Linked DNA regions of Homo sapiens: region 2 is linked to region 1. The links come from fine-mapping of genetic effects on gene expression. Tissue or cell type: testis. Region 1 holds a variant in brackets; the other region holds the start of a gene. All regions are shown on one strand. Distances are between the middles of the regions.

What was found. PIP is the estimated chance that this variant, and not a neighbour inherited with it, causes the effect.
Region 2: HKDC1 starts here. The variant in region 1 is fine-mapped to the expression of HKDC1 in testis (GTEx, PIP 0.99).

Annotation. Positions count from the first base shown.
Region 1 is chr10:69,191,251-69,199,602 of GRCh38, reverse strand. It overlaps SUPV3L1 (Suv3 like RNA helicase), which reads right to left. Exons shown (of 15, transcript NM_003171.5): 6 at 7,837-7,948; 7 at 4,338-4,415; 8 at 2,520-2,611; 9 at 1,051-1,231; 10 at 406-499. Among named protein-coding and RNA genes, the nearest start is that of SUPV3L1, 15 kb to the right of the region's middle. The variant A/G (reference allele first, on the strand shown) is at 3,541.
Region 2 is chr10:69,215,416-69,223,415 of GRCh38, reverse strand. It overlaps HKDC1 (hexokinase domain containing 1), which reads right to left and starts at 3,084. Exons shown (of 18, transcript NM_025130.4): 1 at 2,918-3,084. The coding sequence starts at 2,980. It overlaps LOC101928994 (a long non-coding RNA gene), which reads left to right. Exons shown (of 5, transcript NR_120648.1): 3 at 191-249; 4 at 391-539; 5 at 6,644-8,000. RefSeq lists an enhancer at 5,058-5,227.

The DNA of each region.
Region 1 (8,352 bases):
GAGACTAGCTTGGGCAACAGGGTAAGACCTTGTCACTACCCAAAAAAAAAGAAAATAACCAGGCTTTGTGGTGTGCACCTGTGGTCCCAGCTACTCTGGAGGCTGAGGCAGGAGGATCACTTGGGCCCAGGAGTTCAAGACTGCACTGAGCTACAATTTGATCACTGCACTCCAGCGTGGGTAAAAGAGCAAGACCCTGTCCCTAAGAAAAGTCCTGGCACTATTTAATATTTTCTTTTTATTTCCCTCAATAGGTGTAGGCAAGACAAACCTCAAATCTAGCCTATAATATTTATTCTCCCAAATCATAGCGTTTGGTCATTAATGCCAATTAGAAAACTGAAAAACAAAAAAACCACCATTTAACTCACCAAATATTCATCTTATTAAAAACAAATTACTTACAAATTAAGTCCCATGCCAATTGCATCTGTAGCAACCAAGATTTTGCATGGGTCATTGGGATCATTAAACTTTTTTGCTTGAGCAAGTTTGGTCCCTAAAACAAGAACAATTTATGTTAAATCAGTGTTCTCAGTCTTTTATTACATCAAGCTAAGTACATCTTGGAAACCCTCACCTCCTGTTCTTCCCATTTTTAATGATAAAACCTTTACTGTTTCAAACTTTATTTCTTTATATCCTCAAAGAGCCACTTATCCTTTACATCCATTCCTTCAAATACTCCGTCATATAGCAACACAATCCCCCACCACACTAGCCTTATTCCTGAGGACACAGATTTCAGGACTACAACTTAAAAGGACATGGTCAAGACCAGATTTCAATGACATTTCTGTAAGAAAATAATAAACTCAACATTTAAGATACAGTCTAATAATAGCAGCAACTAACAAGAACTATAATTAAAATACTTCTATTTCCACTAAGATGAAATAGAAAATTATTTATTTTATATGACGTTTAACAAATTACCAATACATCAAGCAGCTTAATTCAATATTGTTTACCATTTTTTTATATATATCTCAACATAAATTGCAAAGATAGGAGATTTCATATCTTGTCACGAGGAAAGTCAATAATTACCAGGTGGGAGACTGCCATATATAACAGCTGATTCTAATCCCCGAATTTCAATCTGCCGACTCACAGAATAAATATCATTCTTGCTAAAACAGACAATGCAGTCCCCAGGCCGAAGGTTATCTAAAGATTCTAGTGCATGGTCCAGCACAGAAATGGGGGTAAGCCTCTTATAGTCTCGAACCTACAATAAAGACATGAAATGGCAAAATGACACACCCAACTCAACTTCTTGTGACTAGTAATTAAGTGAAAAGATTGTAATGCAGTTAAGAGTAGCTAAAAACTGATAAGTACCAATGTTTTTCAAAAGAAAACACAGAAAAACATTTATTTTGATATTATAAGTGTTACCATCACTTCTCATTGGCATCTCTAAATTAATAAGATGAAACAGAGTGTTTCACCTGTTTTCAAAGCTTTTTCTCATATATTTCATTTTCACGGCAATGTGTTAAGTTCAGAAAGGTTATTAACTGCTATTTCCATTTTATAAAATAGTAAAACTGAGCCCAATAAAAAATTAATGTCTGAGGCACATTTTGCAAGTCTAACCTTCTGTGACTTGTCTAAAGAATGCAAAGCTAAGAATGGCAAAACACAGAATGGACTCCAAAATTTCTTCCACTATATTCCACTATCTCTCCTTGAAAACTGAGCACAAAACTAAAATAACAGGCTAATTCAAAACTATTTCCTTGGCTTATGCTTATAATCCCAGCACTTTGGGAGGCCAAGGTGGGAGAATTGCTTGAGCACTGGAGTTCGAGACCAGCCTTGGTAACACAGTGAGATGCCCTCTGCTCAAAAAATAAAAAATTAGATGGGCATGGTGGCAAACACCTGTAGTCCCAGCTATTTGGGAGGCTGAAGTGGGAGGATCACTTGAGTCCAGGAGGCTGAGACTGCAGTGAGTTGTGATTGCACCACAGCACTCCAGCCTGGGTAACAGAGTGAGACCTTGTCTCAAAAAATAATAATAATAATAATAATTCATTTTACTATAGAACTCTGGTAAAGAAAAAGAGAAGCAGGATTAAAAGGAAACCAGTTACTTCCAACTCTAAGAATTTCAAAAAGGAATATAAACTGTGTCTGGCAATTAGATGTGTATCAAAGGCCCCAATATCTGACATACAACACTTTGAAAACGACAAACTTGCTGGGTCTCCAACTTCTAAGAGTACTGATTTATTTAATTCGAAGAGATCTACTCAAGCCCCACAAGGTTTTGTCAAGAAGTGAAGAATTTCCTGTACTCTTGGAAGACTTAGGGTGTGATGACCACTCTGTCAGAACTTCAGATCATGAGGTTCAATCAAATATATATGGTCTAGTTGATCACAAGAAAATGAAGCTTTCTTTTTAGTTAAGTTCTGACGCTGGCATTATCTAGGGCCTCTGAAGCCACTGCCTAGGTACTCTGGACTATTTGATATGCCACCTGGAGAACAAAGCATCTAATCGAATACCTCCACTTCCTCCCCCGTTGTGTACATAAGCTCCATCACCAGGTCAATAGCAGCAGGTTCTCCACACAAATGAACCTCTTCAGCACACAGTCCTGTCAATGCAAAACTGGGTTTCTTAATTTTAAAGATTTATAATTAAATATACAACATTTTACATAGCCAAAGTACTTTACGTTGGCTTACATATTGCTTTACAACCTTACCAAGTATTTTCAAAAATATTATCTCTGATGCAAACCTTGAAATAATCACCAACTTCTAATGGGCAAAGATTATCCAATTTTTATTAATCTCAGGCCTTTTAAATTGCTTTGGCCAAAGTTTCAACTCTATCAGAGTGAAATGAGCCAGGATTAGAAGCTGGCATTTGGATGCTAAGTACTGAACACAGACCCTATACTTGTGTTTTTCAAATTAGGCTCCATGGAATCGCTGAGGTACCTCAGAGGTTGGGGGTTGGAGGGCAGAAGAAACTCCAAGCTCCTTATCCCCGAGCAGATCCACTTCCATGTATTTTACATAACAGGCTTCAATGTATACTCTTTGTTTAAAAAAAGAGTTCAGCCTTTTTTTTTTTTTCCATGAGACAGAGTCTTGCTCTGTCGCCCAGGCTGGAGTGCAGTGGCATGACCTCGGTTCACTGTGGTTCACTGCAATATCTCCTTTCCAGGCTCAAGTGATTCTTGTGCCTCAGCCTCTGGAGTAGCTGGGTTACAGGCATGCGCCACCACGCCTGGCTAATTTTTATATTTTTAGTAGAGACAGGGTTTCGCCATGTTGGCCAAGCTGGTCTTGAATTCCTTGCCTCAAGCAATCGGCCAGCCTCGGCCTCCCAAAGTGCTGGGATTACAGGCGTGAGCCACCGCACCCAGCCAAGTTCAGCTATTTGTTTTTAAATTTGAAAACATCTGCCCTAAAACATGATCAAAAATTCACTCCAACATCAAGCAGTAGAAATGTTCATTCATGTCTATGGACCTCAAGAACTCCACTTACAGGAGCCTATCCTAAAGAAATAATT[A/G]AAAAGATAAAAAATAAGCTGGGTGTAGTGGCTCATGCCTGTAATCCCAGCATTTGGGGAGGCTGAGGTGGGAAGAGTGCTTGAACCCAGGAGTTCAAGACCAGCCTGGGCAACATAGGGAGACTCTGTCTTTACAAAAAATTTAAAAAGTTAACCAGGGGGCATGTTGGCAAACAGCTGTGGTCCCAGCTGCTCGGGAGACTGAGATGGGAGGACTGCTTGAGCCCAGGAGGTCAAGGCTGCAGTGAGCCACAACTGCGCCATCACACTCCAACCTGGGCATCAGAGCAAGACCCTGTCTCAAAAAATAAAAAGCTTTGGCCACAAAGATTTTTACTGCAGCGTTATTAGTAATAGGGAAAAAAAGGTTCAACTCTATGGAGCAAATTACAGTATTGCCCTTCAATAGAGATATGCGATCATATTAATACATAATGAAAAATGTCACATGAAAAACAGCAAGATACAAAACTAATGTTCTCAAAACACCATATGCACATACAAAAAAGAAAAGACTAGCATGAAACACACCAAAACATAAATTGTAGTTGTGTAAATATGAGATTTGAACATTTTAACTTTAATTACATGGTTATGCTAGTTTTAGCACAGGAAAAAATAGATTTCCCATTATTAAAATAATATTTAGAAAATAAAAACTCATACTTAGTTTACTTTTTTGTGTCAAAAAGAAAGGTTCTAGGTGACTCTATTTGGTTGGCAATGGCAAGCAGATAAAAATGCATCTCAGCGCAGATGTCATAAAGCACGGGTTTTATAGCATTACGACCACCAACCTAGAAGTGCTCTGGTCCAGGCCCATCCTCTGGCTGGATCTCTAATCATTTGAATTTCATCAATTACAGCCACTTCATCTTAAAATAAAAAAGTTAACATGAGCAATACCATCTACTTAAATAGTATTATAAACAAATTCCAACACCAAAATTCAAGCATCACCATCACCACTACCACCATCACTTACTGGGTTCCTCTTTTCCAGCAGGTTTGTTCTAAGTGTTTTACCTCCTCTTAAGTACCTCCTCTTTAATCCTCACAACAAATCTATGAGGTTAAGTATTATCACTATCTCCATTTGACAGAAAAAGTCAGAGGCCCAGAGAAATTAAGTTACTTGCCTTAAGTTATACAGTTAAATGCAGAGATGAAATTCAAACCCAGGCCATCTAGCTCCAAAGTCTATACTCTTTTTTTTTTCTTTTTAATTTAGATACAGGGTCTCACTGTTGTTCAGGATGGCCTTGAACTCCTGGGTTGAAAGTGATCTTCCTAACAGTGTCTCACTGTCATACAGCCTGAGTCCAGTGGCACAATCATAGCTCACTGTAACTTCAAACTCCTAGGCTCAAGCAATCCTCCTGCCTCAGCTTCCAAGCAGCTGGGACTACAGGCACGCAGCACCATGACCAGCTAATTTTAAAAACATTTTCTTGGGAGGTCGAGGCGGGTGGATCACAATGTCAGGAGATCGAGACCATCCTGGCCAATATGGTGAAACCCCGTCTCCACTAAAGATACAAAAATTAGCCGGGCATGGTGGCGTGCGCCTGTAGTCCCAGCTACTCTGGAGGCTGAGGCAGGAGAATCATTTGATCCCGGGAGGCGGAGCCTGCAGTGAGCCAAGATTGCACTACTGCACTCGAGCCTGGGCAACACAGCAAGACTCCAGCTCAAAAAAAAAAAAGGTTTTTTTTTCTTTAGAGATGAGGGTCTTGCTATGTTACTCAGGCTGGTCTCGAACTCCTGGCCTCAAGCAATCCTCCCATCTCAATCTCTTAAGTAGCCAGAATTAACAGGCACAAGTCACCACATCCAGCTCCAAGTCCATACTCTTACATACTCTACCACACTGCCTCCCACACTGAGCAGTTCCACTTGTCCTGTTTTTTTGCAATCTAAGAGACAGCCTGGAGAATTTCTCTGATGAGAACTATCACATCTGGACAGAAGTAAAAGAAGAAGGCAAGTTCCAGAACAAGGAGGTGACAGCCCTTCATTTACTAATGAAGCATCTCTACCACAGGAAACCAGGCAGCTCTCAGGAGCAGAAAGTGAAGTGGAAGGAATAATTCCTTGGGCCTCAGTCATGCTCATCCTTAGGGGTTTTAAATCCATCGCTATGGCAAAAAGTAGTGTCTCATCTCATTTTCTAAAGCTAAAATGCTTCCAAATACCTTATTCTATTCCCTGTAATTCATATATTATATTTTACTTTCTTCCCCAAATACTACAGAATTGAAAAGAGAACATTTAAAAATACAATGACACTTAGGAAAGTAAAGAAAGCTAATTTTATATTGAACAATCATCAGATTAAAAATTACTTATTGAGGCTGGACATGGTGGCTCATGCCTGTAATCCCAGCACTTTGGGAGGCCGAGGCGAGGCGGACTGCTTGAGCCCGGGAGTTCGAGGCCAGCCTGGGCAACAAAGTGAGACCTCTTCTCTACAAAAGAAAAATTTAAAAGTGAGGCAGGAGGATTGTTTGAGCCCAGGAGGTCACGACTGCAATAAGCTGTCATCGTGCCACTGCACTCCCACCTGAACGACAGGAGTGAGACCCTGTCTCAAAAAAAAAAAAAAAAAAACTACTTCGTGATCTGGATATGTACAAACAAGACTAGAAGAGAAGACATAGAGAAGAAATTCTGATTTATAAACTTCTGTGCAACTGTACAATATATTACTTTATAATGTATTGATTTTTTAAAAACTATTCTTCTCACAAAGTTGATTATTAAAATGAAAAAAAGCAAGCTACCAAATAGTAAAGTACCTTCCTATTTGTTTAATATACACACCCACCATGCACATATAACTATATGCATACACAACATGAACACAAATATTAACAAAGTCTGGAAAATATATAGGGTTAATTAACACCTATTGATTCCGGATAGGTGGGACTGGGAAATTATGTACATTTGTTTTCTTCTGTTTGCTTGCTTACATTTTTATATTTTCAATAATGAAGATATGATTGCTTACATAATAAGGAAAAAGTTAATTTTCACTTAAATGTTAAGGCCAGGTGCGGTGGGTTATACCTGTAATCCCACTGCTTTGGGAGACCTAGGTGGGAGGACCACACAAGGCCAGGAATTAGAGACCAGTCCGGGCAACACAGCAAGAACCCATCTCCACAAAAAATTTATTAATAAAAAATTAGCTGGGTGTGGTGGCTCACACCTGTAGTTGTAGCTACTCAGGAGGCTAAGGCAGAAGGATTGCTTGAGCCCAGGAGGTCGAGGCTGCAGTAAGCCATGACTGCGCCATTGCACTTCAGCCTGGGTGACACAGTGAGCCCCTGACTCAAAAACAAAACAAAACAACTTTAAATAGAAGCTCATTGTGGCAGTGTACATAACAGGAAAAAACTTTAAACAACCTAAATATCCTTTAACAAATGGGGAACAAATAATTTCAGTTCTAAGATGGAATACTATAAAACAGTTTAAATGAAATAACTACAAATATGTAGCTATAGATACTTCAATAAGACTAGATAGATCTAAACACATTTGTGGAGTAAACAAGCAAGTGGTAGAACAATAATAATACAATAATCACATAAATGTTTTAAAACACAACAATCTAGAATACTGGTAATACGTATCAGTGATATAATATATATCCTGAAAAGAGACAGGAAAACTATACACACCAAATATCTGTTACCAGTTAGAACAAAAGAGGAGAGAGGAATTAAACTGGAGAGTGGTACAAAGGAAATTTCAATTATGCTTATTAACATTTCAGCTCTTTTAAGAGAAAAAGGGAAAGAACTTCAGGTGCAGGCATTTGTCAGTGGTGGCAGGATCGCACGTTTGTCATACTTATTCTCTTCTTTTTCTAGATTTTAAAATTTTTTCTTCACACAAAAAAATCGTATTTCACATGTTCAAGTGTATTTTAAAATTAAAAATACCATGGTCAGGCGCAGTGGCTCACGCCTGTAATCCCAGTACTTTGGGAGGCCGAGGTGGGCAGATCACCTGAGGTCGGGAGTTTGAGACCAGCCTGACCAACATGGAGAAACCCCGTCTCTAGTAAAAATACAAAAATTAGCCGGGTGTGGTGGCGGGCACCTGTAATCCCGGCTACTTGGGAGGCTGAGGCAGGAGAATCGCTTGAACTGGGGAGGCAGAGGTCGCAGTGAGCCGAGATAGTACCATTGCATTCCAGCCTGGACAACAGAGCAAGACTCTGTCTTGAAAAAAAAAAAAAATTAAAAATACCAAACCATAGTTTCTTAAACAGCATATACATACAAGGAGTTGTAACACTGCACATCTCAACTGTACAAGAAACATGTGAAGCCTGTTTCCCATTTGGCTGAACTGTCACACGCTCTTCACCTGTCACCAAGTCACATGGCACACCCTAGAAAGACAGAAAAAAAACTAGAATTATTGAAAATAATGCAAAAATACGTTTTGGATATTTAACAGGGTGTTCTCTCCACTACCACCAAATTAGTTTGTTTCACAGTTAAAACATAATGTTCCCACGGCCAGACACGGTGGCTCATGCCTGTAATCCCAGCACTTTGGGAGGCTGAGGTGGGCAGATCACAAGGTCAAGAGATAGAGACCATCCTGGCCAACATGATGAAATCCCATCTCTACCAAAAACAGAAAAAGTAGCTGGGAGTGGTGTTGCACACCTGTGGTCCCAGCTACTCGGGAGGCTGAGGCAGGGGAATCACTTGAACTGAGAGATGGAGGTTCAGTGAGCCGAGATCATGCCACTGCACTCCAGCCTGGAGACAGAGCAAGACTGTCTCA
Region 2 (8,000 bases), 24 kb before region 1:
ACACTGTAACAGTAAGTGAGGGAAGCAGTTCAGAACTGTATGTACCTTATAAACATAACTAAAAACATACAGGATGAAGAAAAACTAGGAAGGCTTCCACCCAGCAAATATGAAAGTGTTTGAGATTAAAAGTAAATTAAAGGTGGAATTACAAGTAACATTTCCACTTTTTTGTAATGTTGACATACAGAGCCATGAAAAATACACACTGAAAACCTCCCAGTTCTCCTGTGGATGAACAATCTGCAGGTCAGTGACCAGGTCTGGCCTGGTGCTATCAATAGGTCAAATAATGTCAATATATTGAATTGGAAAAGAATCTGTCAGAGTGGTTTCTATTTTCGTTTTTTTCATTTTGTTTTATTTTTGTTTCCATGCTGGTATGGGAAGATTTTTAGAAATTGTTCCAGGGTCTCAGTAGTAACCCTTGCAGGCACCGCTGGCCCAGGATCTGGACAATTCTAGAGGCAGGAAGCACAGAGACGAAGAAGGGGACTCACTGCCTGACCGCAGAGAAACGAGCTGTGCCTTTTGACCAGGTGTGTTTCCACCACGTGTTGGGAGGAGTGTTCTCAGAACCATGACTCAGCCCAGCAGCCATAAACCAGTCTCCCACACTACCCCAGAGACTTCCTGGGGCACTTGCTTAAGGTGGCTATAAAAGTGCTTCCAACTTTCTCGCCTCCCACAGGGAGAGGGAGGTCAGCTCCCGGCATTGAAAAAGGCTGACTGTCCTTCCAGAAGGACCTGGAGCCCATCAGCAGAGGCTGCATTTCCCATCACAGGGTGCTCCTGAGCCTGCACCAGGGCTGTTGGACAAACATGTCCCGCATGATCCTAGGGTACAAAAGGTTAACCAACACAAAGGAGCCCAAGGAAATGAAATAAGTTTGCAGAATCAAAGGTTTCAGGGTTCCAAAGGCTCCCCCTTGGGGGTGGGAGAGACATGGTGCAACTTGTGCCTTTACTAAGCAGATAACAAAAGAAAGTGGATTCCTAGGCAGCGCCTCCTTAAGTAGCCAGTAGAGGGCTCTGAATCTAATCAACAAGTGATTGCTTTATAATGTTTTTAAATTTGCTACAACCTCTAACTCAACTCTCTAAATGAATAGAATTTAGTGGGAGTTTATCCCACCAAGTACCTGAGGGCTGTAAGGGGCCACACTTCCTCTCTCTCTTTCTTTGTTTTGTTTTGAGACGGAGTCTCATTCTGTTGCCCAGGCTGGAGTACAATGGCATGATCTCGGCTCACTGTAACCTCTGCTGCCCGGGTTCAAGGGATTCTCCTGCCTCAGCCTTCTGAGTAGTTGGGATTACAGGCGCACTCCACCACGCCCAGCTAATTTTTAAATTTTTAGTAGAGACGGGGTTTCACCATGTTGGCCAGGGTGGTCTCAACCTCCTGACCTCAGGTGATCCACCCACCTTGGCCTCCCAAAGTGCTGGGATTATAGGTATGAGCCACCATCCTTGGCCTTTTTTTTTCTTTTCTTTCCTTTTTTTTTCAGACAGGGTCTCACTCTGTCACCCAGGCTGGAGTGCAGTAGCGCAGTCTCCCGGGCTCAAGCCATCCTGCCACCGCAGCCTCCCGAGTAGTTGGGACTGTAGGCACACACCACCATGACCGGCTAATTTTTACATGTTTTGTAGAGATGGGGTTGCTCCATGTTGCCCAGGCTGGTCTCAAACTCCTGACCTCAAGTTTGAGATGAGATCTGCTCATCTCAGCCTCCCAGTGTATGCAGATTACAGCCGTGAGCCACGGTGCCTGGCCTCCTTATTCATTTTGTAAAGCAGGAGGGAGTCATGGCACAGCAGAAAGCATTGAAGGAAGAGTCAGCCAACTTGGATTTAATCCTCATTCCATCCTAAATACTTGGTGACCTTGGCTAAGTCCTCCTGCTAGGAGGACTTCTGTCATCTGCACTTTGAGAGATGCTTTTTGCCCAGGGCCGTGACAGCCAGCCGGTGTGGCCAGAGTAGCAGACTGGGCTCATTTTAGCTGCCTGGAAAGAACCCTGGTTCCCTCCTGTTGACCCTTGGCAACCTTTAACCAGCCCACTTTGGAATGAATTTTGTAGACAAGTTCCCTGAGCAAAGTGACAAAATAATGCACACCATGAATAGTGTACCATTGGCAAATAGCAGGTGCCAATAATAGATATTTCAATTACTGTCTATTGCAACTCACACCTTCTTGCTGCCCACATTTATATGCTTTCAAATACATGAACAAACAGATCTGCCCCAACAGTTCTTTTTTTTTAGATGAAGTCTCACTCTTGTCCCCTAGGCTGGAGTGCAATGGCGCGATCTCGGCTCACTGCAACCTCCACCACCTGGGTTCAAGCGATTCTCCTGCCTCAGCCTCCCGAGTAGATGGGATTACAGGTGCCCGCCACCACACCCAGCTAATTTTTGTATTTTTAGTTGAGACGGGGTTTCACCATGTTGGCCAGGCTGGTCTCGAACTCCTGACCTCAGGTAATCCGCCCACCTCGGCCTCCTAAAGTGCTAGGATTACAGGCGTGAGCCACTGCGCCCAGCCTTCTGCTCCAACAGTTCTTAAAACTTCTTTGAAAATGATTCTCCTCGCCTTTGTGGCCTTTCCGAGCAAACATCCCTTACAGCAAACACAATCCTCTTCAAGCTTTCCAAACACCCTCCTCACCCGCTTCCGCATCCAATACCTGCCAGGAAGTTCCGAGTGAAGTGTAAGGTTCAGGACAGTAATGCAATGCCCAGGAGTGTGGGAGAATTACTCCCTCTTCCCTCAGTGAGTCTTTTACTGGTCATATGCTCCCAGTATCTTTTCTAATAAGCTCTCTTCACTCCCTTCTGATTTTTTTTTTAAGGGAATCAGTTTTGTCCGTGAAGAAGGAGCTGGGCATCTCTCAGCTTCGTGGGTCCTCCTTACCTTCTTGATCTGGTCCTCCTTCAGCTTGCTGAAGTAAAATGCCATCAAGTGGACCGCAAACATTTTCCCCAAGTTTGGTTTCTCCTGAGATGGGCAGAGATTCCTGTGCAGTGTTCACTCCTACGACTCTGGAGTGTTGCACGCTTCCAGTCCAGGCTGGCAGACCTCCTGGGGAGCGAGGTGTTGCGGACTAAATACCTCCAGCCTGCTTGGTTCAATGATTAAACTCCCCCCCACCCCACCCCTTTGGTCCCTCCCTCTGGCACACACTTGATTGTCTAATAGGAGGCTCTGGATGGTAGCTGAGGTTTAGTGGAGGGGGAAGCAGGGTATTGATGGGTTGCTTGACTACTTGAGAATTGGGTGCCACCAAATCTCATTGCTAAGCAACCCTCTCAAGCCGGGGCTCTGCCAAGCCCACTCAGCCGAGGAAAATCTTCTGCGAAGTTGGGCACTAAACAAAGCCAACTTTCAACCGGTGGAGCTGCTCTGCAAATTTCCAGTCCCAGGCTTTTCTCTTTAGTTTTTTATGCCAGTGGCATAACTCTGTGACCCCCTGCTCCTCAGAAGCACTGAACTAACTAAAACTAAACATTGTCCTGGTCAATGGGATTTCAAGAATGTTGGGGCAGATTCTTCCATTTGTGACAGATCAGATCTCTTAACTAATAGCCCATGGTTAACAGAAAATGATCAATAAATGTTTACCTATTCACAGTGTTAAGCCAGAAAATCTTTAGTTCACAGGTAGTGACCCAGGAAAAAATATTCCTGAGAAAGAGTGAACTGAAGTCACCAGTGCTCACTGGGAATCACTGCTGGAGAGAAGGAAGTCACAGATAAGAAATGTCTCAGTCCAGCCGGGTGCAGTGACTCACGCCTGTAACAATCGCAGCACTTGGGGAGGCCGAGGCAGGCAGATCATGAGGTCAGGAGTTCGAGACCAGCCTGGCCAACATGGTGAAACCCCATCTCTACTAAAAATACAAAAAACTTAGCCAGGAGTGGTGGCAGGTGCCTGTAATCCCAGCTACTTGGGAGGCTGAGGCAGGAGAATCACTTGAACCTGGGAGGCAGAGGTTGCAGTGAGCCGAGATCGCGCCATTGCACTCCAGCCTGGGTGACAAGAGCAAAACTCCATCTCAAAAAAAGAAAAAAAAGAGAAATGTCTCAGGCCACTGAGATGTTTTATTCACTCACTTCTCACTCATCATACTTGACATGAGAAGGACCCAGAAAGCACCCAATACATGGGTACAATCAACCTTGCACTCTTCCCACAGTCACTGGCTGGCTAATGAAACCAATAACAACAGCGTTAACAACAGCGGCTAACATGGATGGAGCATTTACCAATCCCATTTTGTTTTTATTACTCTTGTTATTATTATTTTTTAGACAGGGTCTCATTCATCCCCCAGGCTGGAATGCAGTCGTGGAATCATGACTCGCTGCAACATCAGCCTTCTGGGCTCAGGTGATCCTCCCATCTCAATCCCCAGGGTAGCTGGGGCTACAGGCACGTGGCACCATGCCCAGCTAATTTTTGTATTTTTGTAGAGATAGGGTTTTGCCATGTTGCCCTGGCTGGTCTTGAATTCCTGGGCTCAAGCGATTTACCCACCTCAGCCTCCCAAAGTGTTGGAATTACAGGCATGAGCCACTGCTCCCGGCCCACTCTTATTTTATAGATGAAAAAATTGAGGCCCAGAAAGGTTACGTGATCACAAAGCCATAAACAGGACAGCAAGGGGTCAATCCTGGAAGTTTGATTCCAGGGCCCAGCTATAATACATGGCATTGGCTCTCCAGCCCTGCTTTCTCCACGCAATAGATACTCAATAGATACGCAATTGATAACTATTAGTAGCAGCATTCTGTTGGGATGTTAAGAATTTGTTTTTCTTTTTCTTTTTTTTGAGACAGAGTCTCACTCTGTTGCCCAGGCTGGAGTACAGTGGCTCAATCTCAACTCACTGCAACCTCCACCTCCTGGGTTAAAGCAATTCTCCTGCCTCAGCCTCCTGAGTAGCTGGAATTCAGTGCTCTCTACCCATTGCCGTGTGGACGAGCCATCAGGTCTCACTTAAGCCCACAATGCAGAGGAGGCTCGGTTAAAATTACTCCAGATGCTTTATTCAGATTGATATAAGCATATTAAAACTGTCTCCCAGATTGAGGATCCCCATCCTTTTCAGTCAATTTACCCTCAGACTATGACTTTTAGCTTGCTCCTTTATTACACAAGCAAACAAAGATGAACCTTTAGTTCCCCAAACCATTCAGTGCCCCAAACCAGGTGGAATTGTTGGTATTCTGAAATGCGCATCCTAGGCCCTAGCCCCCATTGGCTGAGGATAACATCCTGGGAAGGCCATCTGCCCGTAAGTGATGACATTATTTATCCTAATTCCCCCACTAGTTGATTTATTTCAGAAACAGAGTCTCACTACATCTTGTCTTGCCCAGGCTGGATTTGAACTCCATCCAGTCTTGCCCAGGCTGGATTCGAACTCCTGGGCTCAAGTGATCCTCTGGCTTCAGCCTCCTGAGTAGCTAGGACTACAGGCTTGCATCACCACACCCAGCATTTAATTCCCCCATTTAAAAAGTAACCTGGGCTGGGCGCAGTGGCTCACACCTGTAATCCCAGCACTTTGGGAGGCTGAGGTGGGAGGTGGGCAGATTGCCTGAGGTCAGGAGTTCGAGACCAGCCTTGCCAACATGGTGAAACCCTGTCTCTACTAAAAATGCAAAAATTACCTGGGCATGGTGGCGGGTGCCTGCAATCCCAGCTACTCAGGAGACAGAGGTAGGAGAACTGTTTAAACCCAGGAGGTGGAGGTTGCAGTGAGCCAATATTGCACCACTGCACTCCAGCCTGGGCAACAGAGTGAGACTCCATTTCAAAAAAAAAAAAAAATGTAACCTGGGCAGTGCAGTATGAACCAACTGTCATTGATTTGTTCGACATAGGGATAAGAGGTTACAGTAGCCAGTGGTCAAAAGATGCAAACCATAACCAAAGATCTCTGTAATCTCACGGTTGCTTGTGTGAGTCAGATAGGCAGCCTTTGGAATTTTAATCAGGCAAATGACACCAGAGGATTTTCATCTATTGCATCATTCCCTTTTTAATCTGAGCACATTAGCGTCTACATTCCAGGCCTGAGTAAGGTGACTAAACCAGGAAGTTTAATGATTACAGAGATCACATGCATTTGGAGTCATCTAGCTCAGCCCTCTCACTTTATAGAATCAAGACAAAATAATTAGGTTATTTTATCATTCCTCATCTGATTACTCCAATTCAAGTCTTGGGATTTTTCACCCTTACTACAGTTCTATTGGCTATTCAAGGATATCTAGGTTTAAATCTTATAAGTAGTTGGATTTTGCTTAAGAACACCCATTTGAGGGCCGACACTGACAAGTGACATTTTAGTTAAAGCGTATCACCCATCTGGCCCAAATCTTCCATGTAAGAAGGGAAACTCTCCCATCTGTAGACACATCTCCGTTTCATAGAGCTCCACTTTAATCTACACGGTCCGTTTTGGCAAGGCTCAAAGATAATTTCTGTTTCTCTTTAAGTACTGAGTATGGTGGGAGGACTAGAAGTCCAGCAAAATTTACCTATTTATTTAGCAAACACTTCCCCATGGGGTTTACTAGATGTCTTACGATATTAATTCCACAGTAACTGTCATTCTCCCTATTTTACAGATGGAGAAACCAAGGCACAGAGCCCAACTGGGACGCAGTGAAATCGAGATTTGAACGCAGGCAGTCTAGCTGCAGAGTTCTTGCTTGCCCGCTGTGCTACACTGGCTAGGCTGGAAACAAGGCACGGGGAGACTTGGGGCCTCAGCTGGAAAAATGGCCCTAAGCTCTTTCTAACACAGTGGAAAGTGCACAGGCCCTGGGGTCCTACTTTGGCTTTTCTTAAACTGCAGGTAAAGGTCCAAGTCTATATTCATATCTGTAAAAGCTTCATAGCTATGTCAGTGGTCACAGTGAGAAAGAAAGCAAATTATCACACAAGGAAAGGCATGTGGTCTACAGTGGGCACACTAGAAGCATCTCCTGAAGCTCAGCCTTTCCCTGGCTGGGGACCCCTCTTCGCTCACCCAACTTGGTCTCTTGGGATAAGAAAATGTGTGCAGACCTTTCAGTCCACTCAGTAAGGCATGATCCTAAACCATTAGAAAGTACCTGTTCCATGTACTGGAATTAAAGGAACAGTTGGGAATTTTATGGAAATTCTATTCCTGTTACTAAAGAAAACAGCTCTTGAATTCTGCCCTGTATTCTTTTTAATGGTAAGTCCAAAGTTAAGTCGTCATAACATAAATCAGTGTGACCTGCTGGTATTCCACTTGCTGCAAAAGAATCAGAAACTGTGTGGGAGAGCAAACTTCCATAATAAGAAAACCAATGTAGAGACTTCCAAACGCTGCCAGTGGTTACAGTCACAATGGTGTCTCTATCGGAGCAGCCACAAATGAAGCAGAAATGCTAACCTCAGCAAGTTTCAAAAGAATGCTGCTAATCATTTTTACAGGTTTATTCTGAACCGAAGACAAGGAATGCTCAGGAAGAAATTCTGACATGATTTCTAAATCACAACTGTACATTAAGGGTCATATTTGCAAAACACCTATCAAGGAAAGAAAAGCCATACAAGAAAATGCAGTTCATGTGACTTTTAACATTTTTCAGAATAATTACAATCTCAATTGCACAAAATAACCAACTTTTCAAAGCAAATGAGACTTCTGGTTAAACACGGCATTAACCTACAAGGACAAAAAGAAAGGAAACAGTGACTGATAAGAGATCTTAACATAATTCTGGAAGACAGGAAGCTCACGGAAGTAATTGCTTAGTAGAGCAAACACTGAAACCTGAGTGCCCGCAGAGGGTGACTCGGGTGAGAAAGGAGCTGTGACGTTTGTAAAACTCTAAAATGCTCAGGAATCAGAGGTCTGGGGCAAGACATAGAGCCAAAAACAAGAGATTGGTTAAAAAGCTATATAAAAAAGCTTGGCCAGGCACGGTGGCTCACCCCTGTAATCCCAGC